4 linked regions of the Homo sapiens genome follow. Changing the gene in region 4 together with the main gene of any one other region gives a genetic interaction. Each region holds a gene or a part of one and is shown on either strand. Other genes may lie near its edges.

What was found.
Region 1: changes in SEC31A (region 4) and SEC23IP together harm fitness less than expected from each alone (positive genetic interaction), as found in Homo sapiens cells (one large-scale study listed by BioGRID).
Region 2: changes in SEC31A (region 4) and TRAPPC10 together harm fitness less than expected from each alone (positive genetic interaction), as found in Homo sapiens cells (one large-scale study listed by BioGRID).
Region 3: changes in SEC31A (region 4) and SLC39A9 together harm fitness more than expected from each alone (negative genetic interaction), as found in Homo sapiens cells (one large-scale study listed by BioGRID).

What each region holds. Positions count from the first base shown.
Region 1 is NC_000010.11:119,902,728-119,906,234, reverse strand, and holds part of SEC23IP (SEC23-interacting protein), read right to left. Parts: intron 3,437-3,507; coding exon 3,226-3,436; intron 2,152-3,225; coding exon 1,958-2,151; intron 1-1,957. UniProt on the Homo sapiens protein: Plays a role in the organization of endoplasmic reticulum exit sites. Specifically binds to phosphatidylinositol 3-phosphate (PI(3)P), phosphatidylinositol 4-phosphate (PI(4)P) and phosphatidylinositol 5-phosphate (PI(5)P).
Region 2 is NC_000021.9:44,018,807-44,022,313, forward strand, and holds part of TRAPPC10 (trafficking protein particle complex subunit 10), read left to right. Parts: intron 1-3,507. UniProt on the Homo sapiens protein: Specific subunit of the TRAPP (transport protein particle) II complex, a highly conserved vesicle tethering complex that functions in late Golgi trafficking as a membrane tether.
Region 3 is NC_000014.9:69,401,690-69,405,196, reverse strand, and holds part of SLC39A9 (zinc transporter ZIP9), read right to left. Parts: intron 1-3,507. UniProt on the Homo sapiens protein: Transports zinc ions across cell and organelle membranes into the cytoplasm and regulates intracellular zinc homeostasis. Participates in the zinc ions efflux out of the secretory compartments.
Region 4 is NC_000004.12:82,877,650-82,881,156, forward strand, and holds part of SEC31A (protein transport protein Sec31A), read right to left. Parts: intron 3,274-3,507; coding exon 3,150-3,273; intron 1,280-3,149; coding exon 1,081-1,279; intron 1-1,080. UniProt on the Homo sapiens protein: Component of the coat protein complex II (COPII) which promotes the formation of transport vesicles from the endoplasmic reticulum (ER).

The DNA of each region.
Region 1 (3,507 bases), on a different chromosome or scaffold from region 4:
TCACAGTTCACTGCAGCCTCAAGATCCCAGGCTCAAGCAATCCTACTGCCTCTGCCTCCTGAGTAGCTAAGACCACAGGCATGGGCCACCATGCCCAGCTAATTTTTTTGTGTGTATTTTTTGTAGAGACGGGGTTTTTCCATGTTGTCCAGGCTGGTCTGGAACTCCTGAGCTGAAGCAACCCACCCACCTTGGCCTCCCAGAGTGCTGGGATTACAGGCAGGAGCCACCACGCCCAGCCTAGCTCCATTTCTTGAGGTCACCTTTTACGTTCTTCAGTGTTCCATAAAGTTTACCGGTACTTTTCTTGGGCTTTTTTCCTACATTGCCTGTAGTTTTATAAATATATAGTCTCTCTGTTATAAATACATAGTATCTTCTTTTTCTATTTTTAATTGGTTATTTCTATGGCACAGGAATGTTACTAATTTACGTATGTTAATTTTATATACACGGACTTGCAAAAAAACTCTTGTATTGGTGCTAATATTTCTAGAGGTTCTCCTGATTTTCCACGTAGACAATAATCATGTCTTCATCAAATTAAAGGTGTTCTCTGTCTCCAACCCTTCCGTTGTTTTGTCTTAGTGCTCTGACAGAAGAGGATCACCAACAGGATGCTGAGCAATACGTATCATTTTGTTCCCTTTCTATTATCGGCTTTCTCACTTCCTAACCTCCTCTGCCTCTTCCCTGATCTGGTTTGAGTTTCCTGGAAGAAGCCGAACAAAAGCTAAGGTCTCCCTAGGTAGCCATGTGTTGCTGCAGTGGTCAGTATGTGGATATCTATCCCGCTTCAAAGTCTATGTCACCCATATAAAATCAAATATAGTTAAGAGAAAGTGTAGACTTTCAGACACTGCTTGGACTTGAAAATATATACTTCAGCTTCAAAATAGTAAAACTAAACATTTAATCTGGGGACATGATAGCTTCGTAGGGGCCTACCAAAAAGGTACCAAAAATTACAATATATCTTTATTTGTTTATTTATATCTAAAATTAAGCTATAGATATCAGCATTCCTTTACACTTTTTTCTTTATATATATACACACACACATATATGCACATATACAAATATATACTTTTTTTTTTTCTGAGGAAGGGTCTCATTCCCATTGCCCAGGCTGGAGTGCAGTGGCATGATCTCAGCTCCCTGCAGCCTCAACTTCCCTGGCACAGGTGATCCTTCCTCTTCAGCCTCCCGAGTAGCTCGGACTACTAGCGTGTGCCACCACGCCTGGCTAGTTTTTGTATTTTTAGTAGAGACATGGTTTCGCCATGTTGGTCAGGCTGGTCTCAAAACTCCTGGCCTCAAGTGATCTGCTCACCTAGGCCTCCCATAGTGCTGGGATTATAGGCACGAGCCACCACACCCAGCCAGAAGTTAACTAAAATGTTCTGTATCTCATTTCCTATCTATGCAACTGAATTCACTGAACGTATTTCAAATATCTAACATTCAACTCTTAAGTAGAATTAACACAAGCATTTAACACAATTATATAAAACAACATATAATTTCTTGAAGAAATTATAGATTTAAGATGGCTAATAAGACTCAAGACACTTCTTCCAATTCTATTTATTTATTTTCACAAATCAGAGGTTAATTTCAAGCCTTTTACTGAATACTAATTTGAAAATGTCCATATGCTTGGCATCTTCTATCAACAACAAATCCCAGCGGCCTAGGTTCTATTGAAGGCTTGACACAAGCACCTTATTAGATCTGTGATGTGTCTCTGCAAATCATATTCTATCTTTAGACACAGATGCCACGATTAGCACCTCATGAGTGATGACACCACTTAAAAAGTAATCTTCTCTGTGAACAGCATCAAAACAAGCTGTCTTGTAAGTAAAGTCCGCTCCACTGTGAATGATGTTACTCACCAATGTATATAGGACCTACATTTTTTAAAGAAACTCATAAAGAAATAAAGCACCCGTACCTCTAGTTTTTCACTGAACTCCTCAGTATAGGGAATAAATCGACTATCTGTGTCCCCCTTGTAAAACCAAGTACAGCGTCTCACTTCGGCTGGCTCCTCTTCCCAGTAGGCAGCCTTCCTTATTCGGTCATAGAGGTAAACATCGTAGCGCCCTCCATCCGTGCCAAGAACCACGCTCTCCGGATCTGGCTGAACTAGAGAACAAAATTAACACTTTTCCTAACTGCTGCAAGGCATATTGTAAAATAATAAATAATCTGCTGGGCGCAGTGGCTCATGCCTGTAATCCCAGCACCCTGGGAGGCCGAGAGAGGTGGATCACTTGCGGTCAGGAGTTTGAGACCAGCCTGGCCAATGGTGAAACCTCCCTGTCTACTAAAAATACAACAATTAGCCAGGCGTGGTGGCACACGCCTATAATCCCAGCTACTTGGGAGGCTGAGGCATAGTAGTTTGAACCCAAGAAGCAGAGGTTGCAGTGAGTCCAGATTGCGCTACTGCTCTCCAGCCTGGGCAGCAGAGTGAGACTCTGTCTCAAGAAAATAAAAATGAAATAATAAATAATGAATACGGTGACTACTCAATCTTTAAAGACAAAAAACTAGGCTCATTTTTATTTCAAAATAGAAGTTTAAGATTAATCTGTGCTGCTCAAAATTATGACTCTTAAGTAGAAAAGAAACAGCTAGGGCAAACTTTAAAAACATAATTCAAAGAACTGATGGATTTTTTTTATCAGAACAATAATATCTACATACAATAATACAGTGATATAATAATATATCAGGATAAACAAAGAAACACATTTCTACACTGCAGGACTTCTCAAAGCATTAATGTACTCCTGCACACCATCTCTCTCAAGACCTAGATACAGAGAGCAGCATTTCCAAAACTCATCTGACCAGGGAACCCTTTTTTCACAGAGCATCTCCAGGATAGAGAGTTCCACAGAATGCCCTTTATAAATGCCCCCATAACTACAAATGAACAAGGGAAACAGAAAAATTGAAACCTGGATTATATGAACTGCTCAACTTCTCTGATTCAAAATACCTTTAAACTACGAAGTAAATTACTAAAACATTTCTTCAAATACCTTACCCAGGTAACTCAGGACTTATACTAATATCGTCACCTTAAGGTACAGAGTCTGGGGTCTATAAGGATTAAGGTATTTGACATTCACAGAAAATAGATCATGAATAAATGATCTCATTCCTTCTCTTCCTAAAATCAGATATGAATGATGTATGACCAATGTTTACCTGAATTATAGATTTCTTCAAGATTCAAAGAGTCGAACACACTAAAAGGCATCCACAGTTGTTTGTATTCTACCTCCTTGCAGTAAAACCAGTGGGGCTGAACAGGCTCATATTGGTTTTGAAGTAGAAAAGGAGATGGCACTTGAACAGAGGGAGCCCCAGGTCTGGCAGGTACCTGCTGCTGTGCCGGTGACTGCACTGAAGAAGGAACCTGGAGGGGACGGCAAAGTTAAGACTGTCATGCTTGTCCAAAAGAATTCTGAATATGCTTCACACCCAAAC
Region 2 (3,507 bases), on a different chromosome or scaffold from region 4:
TCACTCTGGCTGAGTTGGTTATCTTTTAATGGAAATACAAATAACTGACTTAAGGATTTTTTTGTCGTAGGAAAGTTTGTTGCCAGTTGACAGAGTGTCTTCCCTGGAGTCGCATGCCTTAGTGTGTAAGTGTGTGGTCTCCAAAGGTATTGCACACTGATCTCCAAGTACTGACCCTCCCACCCCCGTGCTCCACTCTAGACCTGGTGGCTTTAGATCTGGAGTTAGAGACCAGCAACGGCAGAAGATTACAGGGTCTTTTTTTTTTAAGACATGGTCTCACTGTGTCGCCCAGACTGGAGTGCAGTGGCATGATCTCGGCTCACTGCAGCCTTGACCTCCTGGGGTCAGGTGATTCTCCCACCTCAATCTCCCGAGTAGCTGCTTGTGTGCCACCATGCCCAGTTAATTTTTTGTATTTTCAGTAGAGATGGGGTTTCGCCATGTTGCCCAGGCACGTTTTGAACTCCTGGATTCAAGCAATCCGCCCTCTTTGGCCTCCCAAAGTGCTGGGATTACAGGCATAAGCCACTGTGCCCAGACAGCTGCAGGGTCTTAAACAGTCAAAACATTCCCACCTCAGTGCCTGCCTCTGTGGTGGGTTGCCTCAGAGCTTCCTGTGGCTTCCTGTCCTGTGTCTCACCTTCTTTCTTCCTCAAATCTTTCCTCTATCTGCTCTTAATGTCAAATATAGTCACAGTATTTTGGCCTTAGAGAATATTTGTTTTTAAATTAAAAATTGATAACCTTGGAGTCATTTATGACTTCTTTTTTCTCTCACAACTGACATTATCTTTGAAATATATCTAGAATCCAGCTATATATAGGGCCTGCCTGGATAATCTGGGATAATCACATCTTGAGCTCCTGAACTTAATTAAGTCTACAAAGACCCCTTTCCCAAATAAGGTGACATTCACAGGTTTTGAGGGTTAGGATGTTGTGGGGCACCATGCCACCTGCCGCACCACTGTCTGTGTTAGCTACCAAGCGCGCAGTGGCCGGCATTCATCAAGCGTCTTTGGTTTTAGACAGCTGCGTCTGTCTTTGGAGGTTTGTCCTTCGTGTACTCCTGACCGAGGGAATGTTATCTTGACATTTGGGCTTCTGGGTTCTAGATGTGGTTACAAGGTGGGGTGATCCCTTCTTAGGAAAAGTCCAGCCTCTTCTGTGCTCTCTCCCTTATGTGGCTTTTTGGACATTTGTTACATGGTGTTTAATTTCTGAATATTATTTTAGGCCCCTGTTTGCAATTTTTTTTTTTTAACAGTGACCAGGGACCATTCCATTGTATGTTTGGACATTTTTCTTTTCTTTTCTTTTTTTTTTTTTGAGACAGAGTCTCGCTCTATTGCCCAGGCTGGAGTGCAGTGGCGTGATCTCGGCTTACTGCAAGCTCCGACTCCGCCTCCTGGGTTCACGCTATTCTCCTGCCTCAGCCTCCCGAGTAGCTGGGACTACAGGCGCCCACCACCACACCTGGCTAATTTTTTTGTATTTTTAGTAAGGATGGAGTTCACCGTGTTAGCCAGGATGGTCTCGATCTCCTGACCTTGTGATCTGCCCGCCTCGGCCTCTCAAAGTGCTGGATTACAGGCATGAGCCACCGCGCCTGGCCCATTTTTCTTATTTTTAACTGAGATCTGTTAGCAGTTTGAAGCGATTGTATACATTTCAGAGTTAGCTGGGCATGGTGGTGCGTGCTTCTAGTCCTAGCTACTTGGGAGACAGGCCAGAGGATCGCTTGAGCCCAGGAATTTGAGGCTGCGGTGAGCCATGTTTGTGCCACTTCACTCCAGTCTGGGCGACAGAGTGAGACCCTGTCTCAAAAAACAAAAAACAAAAAAAAACAATTTCAGGGTTGAAATTTTTAGCAGAGCCTTGGAACTGACAACCACCTGTTTGGATAGTAACTTTAACTCAATCTGTAGCTTGCCATTTGTGGGCACTGTCAGTTCACCTAGACCAGTCAGCAAGCTCTAAACATCCAGGTTAATGAGAAGGGCCGTCAGAAGTCATTTTGAAGTTGAGGAGCTGAGGGCTGGTTTTGCTGTGACTGGCCATGATCAGTGTAACTGTTTAGTAGCACAGCTCGGACCAATATTAGCATGTCTGATGACTCCTGCTTTACCAAGTACTTAGGGAAGGCAGACACCATCTGTTCACATGGAAGCAGGGAGTTTGTCCCTAAAATTATGCTTCTGAGAAAGCCTTTGCCATATAATTAAATAAAAATGTCACTTTAGCATTCTAAGAATTGAGTAAGTAAGCTATACACTAGAAATTTTTAGTATAGTCTTATTCCAAAATTAAATTCCTATTCTGAGAACTTGATACCCAGCACTGTCTTTGCTTCTCCTGTAGTCTGTTCTGTCCTTTGGGGATCCTGGGTTGTCTAGTGTGGAGTATGGAGGAGTTGGGCTGTTTTCATCAGTGAGCAAACATTTACGGAGGACCTATTACATGCCAGTTACTGCTGAAGGGGCTTGGGTTATGTCAGAGAGCAAAGATCCCAACCCTTTGAGAGTTTACATTCTGTCAAGAAGAGATAGACAATAGACAAATAATGTTAGGTGACAAGTGCTATGGAAAAAAGAAAAAGAGAAGGATAAGGGAAATGGAAGAACTGTAACATTTCACATATTTTATTATAAAAGTGCAATATGTATCAAAGTAGACAGAATATTATAAAGAGACCCTACAAACCTTTCACCCAACTACAGCAATTAGGTGAACTGCCCAATCTTGCTTCTCTATACCCCTCATTCTCCCCAGTCTTATATTATTTTGAAGCAAATCTCAGACATATAATTTATCCACGAATGGATGTTATGGACTGAACATTTGTGTCCCTCCCTACACACCGAAGCCCTGACTCCCAGTGTGCTAAGAATAGGAGATGGGCCTTTGAGAAGTACCAGGGCTAGATGAGGTCAGGAGGGTGGGCCCTTTATTATTGGATTAGATGAGGAAGAGTGAGAGGACACCTCCCCCTTGAAACGAGGAAAGGCCACCTGAGGATAACAGCAAGGAAGTGGCTGTCTGCAGTCTGTAACACAGGCCTCACCAGAAACCTAATCTACTGACACCTTGATCTCGGGCTTCTTGACCTACAGAGCTATGAGAAAATACATTGCGATTTTTTTTTTCTTTCTTAGGGTCTTTTCAGAGAGAAAACAAAAAACTGTTTTCTAAGCCACCCAGTCTATGGCATTTTTTTTTCTTTTTAAAAATTTCTTTCTTTTTTTTTTTCTTTCATGGTATTTTTTAATTACACCTAAAACGTTTCTTTCTTTCTTTTGTTTTTGTTTTTGTTTTTGAGATGGAGTTTCGCTCTTGTTGCCCAAGCTGGAGTGCAGTGGCACAATCTCAGCTCACTGCAACCTCCGCCTCTCGGGTTCAAGCAACTCTTCTGCCTCAGCTTCCCAAGTAGCTGGGATTACAGGCACATGGCACCATGCCTGGCTAAATTTTTTTTTTTTTTTTTTTTTTTTGAGATGGAATTTC
Region 3 (3,507 bases), on a different chromosome or scaffold from region 4:
GGTTGTGTCCCCACCCAAATCTCATCTTGAGTTGTAGTTCCCATGCGAGGGACCTGGTGGGAGGTCATGCTGTTCTTGTGATAGTGAGTTCTTGCTGTTCTTGTGACAGTGAGTTCTCACGAGATCTGATGGTTTTATAAGGGGCTTTCCCCCTTTTGCTCAGCACTTCTCCATCCTGCCGCCCCATGAAGAAGGATGTGTTTGCCTCCTCTTCTGCCATGATTGTAAGTTTCCTTAGGCCTCCCCAGCTATGCTGAATTGTGAGTCAATCAAACCTCTTTCGTTTATAAATTACCCAGTCTCAGAAATGTCTTTATTAGCAGTGTAAGAATGGACTAATACAGACACAAAACTTTAAAACACGAAAGAACAAAACAAAGCTTAAAATGAGAGTAAGTATAATGAAGAAAAGAGAGTTAAATACTAAGAAAAATAGTATAAAGCAGGGAGGGTAGAGGAAAAGCCCTGGCCTCTCCAAATAGAATGGTAAATAGTAATGCAAACCAAACCCCACAACAAGACCTTTGGATTCCAAACAAATTGCCGAGAAGTTTCCATGACTGCGAAGGGGAGGAGGGGGAGGAGCTTCCCATTATTAAGTCTGTTTCCAAATAAAAGGTTTAACAATTATAAATTAGAACAAAGTTATAAAAATGAAAATCTTTACAAGTTTTTCTAATCAGTATTGAGAATCTGCCTCAATATTTTTGAAAGTTTTTATTATGTTCTAGACATAGTGTTAAGCCTGTGCTTATATTATTTCAACCTCACAACAATCCTAGAAGGTCATTTAACAGAAGAGATTTGGATTTTAATAGCTTGTTCAAGTAGTAACATTGACTTTGAATGATACTGTCTCAGACAGTCCCTTTTGAAATCAGTGCATTATTAATCATATTCATCTTTAAAATCATCCTAAGAATAGCACTACTTTCATCTGCCAACTTATGGATTTATGCTGTTGGTTATTTTAGGGAGTAGGTCTCCTTATGTTGCCAGTGGCTATTCACAGGCACACTCATAGCTCACTGCAACCCTGAACTCCTGGGCTCAAGTGATCCTCCCACATCAGCATTTGGAGTAGCTGGGACTAACCAGTGTGTGCCACTACATCCAGTTTTGCTGTTTTTGTTTGTTTGTTTTTTGTTTTTTTGAGAGGGAGTTTTGCTCTTGCTGCCCAGGCTGGAGTGCAATGGCGCAATGTTGGTTCACTGCAACCTCCGCCTCCCAGGTTCAAGCGATTCTCCTGCCTCAGCCCCCCAAGTAGCTGGGATTACAGGCACGTGCCACCACGCCCAAATAATTTTGTATTTTCAGTAGACACAGGGTTTCTCCGTGTTGGTCAGGGTGGTCTCGAACTCCCGACCTCAGATGATTCGCCTGCCTCGGCCTCCCAAAGTGCTGGGATTACAGGCGTGAGCCACCACGCCTGGCCTGCTTTGCTGTTTTAATACATGAAAAATGTGGCATTATAACTCAAACTGGTCTGCAATAAGAAAAGTATGGCAACTGAGATAAAGCCTTCAGAAATTTTTAGAGCAATATGATTATTACAATTATAGTAGTAATTTTTTATCTGTTGAATTTAACAATACATTTGGGCTTGTATTTTCTATGTCTTTTTTTCACTTCATTTTCCTACTATTTCATTTTTATAAGTGTATTGGTATGGATTGAAATAAAAATTAAAAACAAAAACTGATCCTTTACCAGGCAGTTTGAGGAATATTGCTGTAGAGCTCTGAGCCAAAAACAGCTTGCTCTCTGTTACCAGCTCTGTGACAAAGAGGAGACATACTCAGGTGAGTAACAACCCTCAGATAATCAATCTGAAATCCCACTTGAGCCATCTGTTTTTGTATCATAGCTCCATTTATCAACTGCAGCAGCACTGAGTTTATACTAGGTAATATAGGCTCTCAACCTACTTATGTAACATTGTTATTTAGAGCCAAAGAAAACTACTCATTAGCAATTCAATCGAAAAAACATAAGACAGTGTTAACTATAAACCAACGGGTCTCACTCCCTTACCAAACAGGGCTTCCTTTGTGTAAAGCATGCTTTGGCCTCCTTTATTTATTTATTTTTATTTATTTATTTTTATTTTTTTCTGAGACAAAGTTTTGCTCTTGTTCCCCAGGCTGGAGTGCAATGGTGGGACTCGGCTCACTGCAACCTCCGCCTCCTGGGTTCAAGCAATTCTCCTGTCTCAGCCTCCTGAGTAGCTGGGATTACAGGCACATGCCACCACGCCCAGCTAATTTTTGTATTTTTAGTAGAGATGGGGTTTCGCCATGTTGGCCAGGCTGGTCTCGAACTCCTGACCTCAGGTAATCCGCCCACCTCAGCCTCCCAAAGTGCTGGGATTACAGGCGTGAGCCACTTAGCACCTGGCTGGCCTCCTTTAAAAGTTAAAAGTGTTTCTCTTTCCTGTATACTGAAAAAATTTACATCCTGATTATCATAGTTACTTATAATTGCATTTGAGAATCGGATTTTTTTTCCTTTGTTTTATAAATTTTTAAGGCATGAAAGTACAGTTGCCAGGTCAAAGGGCAAGGAAGAAGGCCACAAAAGTATCAAGAAAGGTAGTTTTGGGGTGAGGAGAAACTGACAGAGAAATCAATGTCACATAAACCTCTTGGTGGGCACATCTGGCAGGTAGACCCCACCACTACTGCAATTTCAGACTACCTAATTTTAACTCGTTTTTAAATACTAATCTTGCCATAATTGATCATCTGACTTTTATTCCTGTTCTGAGATATTTTTAGAAAAAGTATTGAATGAGAAAGCAGCAGCAAGATTAAAAACATGAATAAAAAGCATATCTTTTCATGTAAATCAAGCTTGTCCAACTCATGGCTCGTGGGCCGCATGCAACCCAGGAGCACTTTGAATGAAGCCTTACACAAATTCATAAACTTTCTTAAAACATTATGAGTTTTTTTTTGCATTTTTTTTTTTTAGCTCATCACCTATCTTAGTGTTAGTGTATTTTATGTGTGGCTTGAGATAATTCTTCTTCTGATGTGGCCCAGGGAAGCCAAAAGATTGGACACCCCTGATGTAAACGAAAGTGAACTGTAAAACAGTAACACTAGCCTCTAAGAAAGCCAGACTTCCTTAAAAAGGCAAGTCATTTATCCAGTGTAGGAGTTTGGGGAATTATTTTCTAAGGAAAGAAATGGTGCTTTCCAGTCCCCCGTGAATGAAATTTATTTTTACAAATTTACCATCTCACTAGTTTCATTACAACATTGGTCCATAATAATGGCATAATTTACCTAGAAAATATGTTTAGTTCCTAGGAGATAGAAATCCTAGTTGAATTCTAGGATGTCTTTAAGTTATATATAACTTTCATTTTTTATTCTAATAGCTCAAAATGCATTGCATCTACTCTAATAATAAACAGATATTATGAATGCTGATTTTAGCATTTTAAGACCTACAGCTGGAAAAGACCATCTGACCGTCAATTTAAGAAAGCCACAAATGACA
Region 4 (3,507 bases):
GCAACAGTACAAAGAATCTTAATTGACTATTTGTTAAATCTGCATTACATTTCTTTTTTCTTTTTTTGAGTTTTGCTCGTTGCCCAGGCTGGAGTGCAATGGCACGATCTCAACTCACTGCGATCTCCGCCTCCCGGGTTCAAGCGATTCTCCTGCCTCAGACTCCCGAATAGCTGGGATTACAGGTGCCTGCCACCATGCCCGGCTAATTTTTGTATTTTTAGTAGAGACGGGGTTTCACCACGTTGGCCAGGCTGGTCTCGAACTCCTGACCTCATGATCTGTCTGCCTCGGCCTCTCAAAGTGCTGGGATTACACAGGTGTGAGCCACATGCCCAGCCATTACATTTAATTTCTAATTATTTCATAGAGTATTAATCTCTGTCATAAACATAAAATTTCTCAATTAATAAAACAGTGAATTAACCTGGACATCACAGCACCAGCCTAATGCTGACCTAGCATGAACTTTTAAAAGGCAAGGTTTCCAACCTATAGGGATCTTAATGTTTATAAAATGTCTAATCAAATGGCGTGACATCTTCAGACTTAAACCTATTAGCCAGCTGGGCACAGTGGCTCACGTCTGTAATCCCAGCACTTTGGGAGGCCGAGGCGGGCGGATCACAAGGTCAAGAGATCGAGACCATTCTGGCCAACATGGTGAAACCCCATCTCTACTAAAAGTACAAAAATTAGCTGGGCGTGGTGGCAGGCGCCTGTAATCCCAGCTACTCGGGAGGCTGAGGCAGGAGAATCACTTGAACCCAGGAGGCAGAGGTTGCAGTGAGCCAAGATCATGCCACTGCACTCCAGCCTGGTGACAGAGCGAGACTCCGTCTCAAAAAAACAAAAACAAAAACAAAAACAAAAACCTATCAGCCGGATCCTTTTCATGGAGGTAGTATTTTTAACCCTGATCTCAACTCTGAACCCACCATTCTTTAAACAAACACTCGTCAACCTGTATAGCCACAGTTTTTTAACTTTCAATTCCAAAACTGAGGCATAGTAGATTCATATACTGATTTCAAATGAGCAGCACATAGTCTAAGAATTATGAAATGTTAAAGTCTTAACCTGGAAAATGTTCACATCCAAGGCTCTCACTGGGCCAGTATGCTTGTCATTCTGGGCAATCACAACTTCCTTGTCTCCAGCTATAATTTTAGAAGGATCATAGAGAATAATATTTCCATTTTCACCACCTGCAATCAGAACTCCAGAGACATCTCCTTTGGAATCCATTTTATAAGGCCCCCAAATCAACTTGTGGTACCTACAGGAGAAAATGAATAAAATCATTCATTCTTAAAGTCAAATAAATGTAGACAAAAAATTGAAATTATACACTTAATTTTTAATGTTTTCATAAACAATCCAAATATATTACTTTCCCACCACTCCTGGTAACTATGTATGACTTTGGTGTAATAGTATTTCATTTTTTATTTATACTCATATTTGCATATGTGATTTTGTAATCCTTAAAGAGTAAAAACTCTTGTAAGGTAGTGTAACAAAATATACTTGAGTTGTGTGTCAAAAAATATGAGCTTAAGAATGATTTTACCATTTAGAAACTGTGAGACCCTAAGTTACTTAATCTTCTTAAATTGCCTCTGGTTCATTGTAAAATAGAGCTAATCAATCACTTCCCTCGAAAGGTAAAAACACTCTTTATTTGACTATAGAAGGGTCTCATGCTTTGACCTTTGTCTGAAAAAAAAAAAAAGGGGGGGTCACTAACAAGTGGTCTGTTAAATAGTAAAGGTGTTAAAGGAGTCATGTGAAATTTTCTAAGAAAAAGAATGTATTCTAATGGTAGAAAAATGACATCAAGATTATAACAAGTACCCCTACTATTAGAGAATAAAATATATGGTCCAGAATGGAGATGAAATATGAAGGCAGAAAGGTATACGATGATACAGATGGTAGTAAGCAGAAAAACTACTAGACAAAAGGTATCTGGGGTTCCCATCCCACTGTGACAGCTCTGAAGAATATGAGCGGTCCCATGAAACTGCATGATTTGAGCTATATTCTGTCAGCTAAAGAGCAATCTCTTTAAACCCTGCTAATATATTGAGGCAATAAAGCTTATTTTATTACTGAAATGAAGACCTCCTTTCTCTGCATTACAATAGGGCATAAGTACTTGAAAGTATGATCCAAATACCTAGTTACCTAGTGTATTAGAAATCGTGTCAACAAAACTGTGAGATATATTTCTAAATATCGTAACAGAAGAAAATAAAAATAAGCTACCATTCAGAGATAATCACTATTAATACTTACGATGACTACTCCTTTTCTAGTCACATCTACCTTTTTGTAAACAGGCACAATAAAGGAGATAGAAAAAAGAACTCTATACAAAATTAGCCAGGCATGGTGGCACATGCCTGTAATCCCAGCTACTCGGGAGGCTGAGGCAGGAGAATTGCTAGAACCTAGGAGGCAGAGGTTGTGGTGAGCCGAGATTGCGCCATTGCACTCCAGCCTGGGCAACAAGAGTGAAACTCCATCTCAAAAAAAAAACAAAAACAAAAAAAACCACACACACACCAAAAAAACAGAAAAAAATGCTAGAAACTACAGCCTCTCCTTCCTACCTTACATGTAACAGCAATAAAAAAGCCAACAGAACATACTGGCCAAGCGTGATTCCTCATGCCTATAATCTCAGCACTTTGGGAGGCTAAGGTGGGTGGATTGCTTGAGGTCAAGAGTTCAAAACCAGCCTGGCCAACATGGCAAAACCCTGTCGCTACTAAAGACACAAAATTAGCTGGGCAAGGTGGTGTGCACCTGTAATCCCAGCTACTCGGGAGGCTGAGGCACAAGAATTGCTTGAGCCTGGAAGGTGGAGGTTGCAGTGAGCCGAGATCGTGCCACTGCACTCCAGCCTGAGCTATGAAGTAAGATTCTGTCTCAAAAAAAAAAAAGAAAAAAAAAAGTCAATAGAACACATAAACACTACTTTTACTTCCATAAAAATTCACTCACATGCTTTTTCACAAAATATTTCATGTTCTTGATGGTATTCCTTGTAGTTTCTAATAATGGCATAATTATAGACAAATTAGGAATCAAGAACAATATATAATTAAATAATCACATGAATTTAAAGCTGAACCTCATACCTGTGAGAAGAGGAGAATGTGGCACAAGATTTCATATCCAAGGATGGATCAGAGAGGTCTAATTCAAATATCTCAAGGGAAGCATTCGTACTAAATGTTGCATCCAATTGCTGAGCAGATGTTCCTATAGAAAATATATTTATGGTAACTATACACACAAAAATAAAAGATCAGAGAAACCATACAAAACAGAAGTTAAAAGCATGTTTTCCATTCTCTTGCTCATGAATGCTGCACATATGCCATTGAGCAGATGCTTAAATTACTATAGCAATGAGATTCTGGCACAGGGCTAGGAGAGGATGTTTATAAGAGTGGGTAGTGTAAATAATTTTTTAAGCCTGTATATATTTAAAAA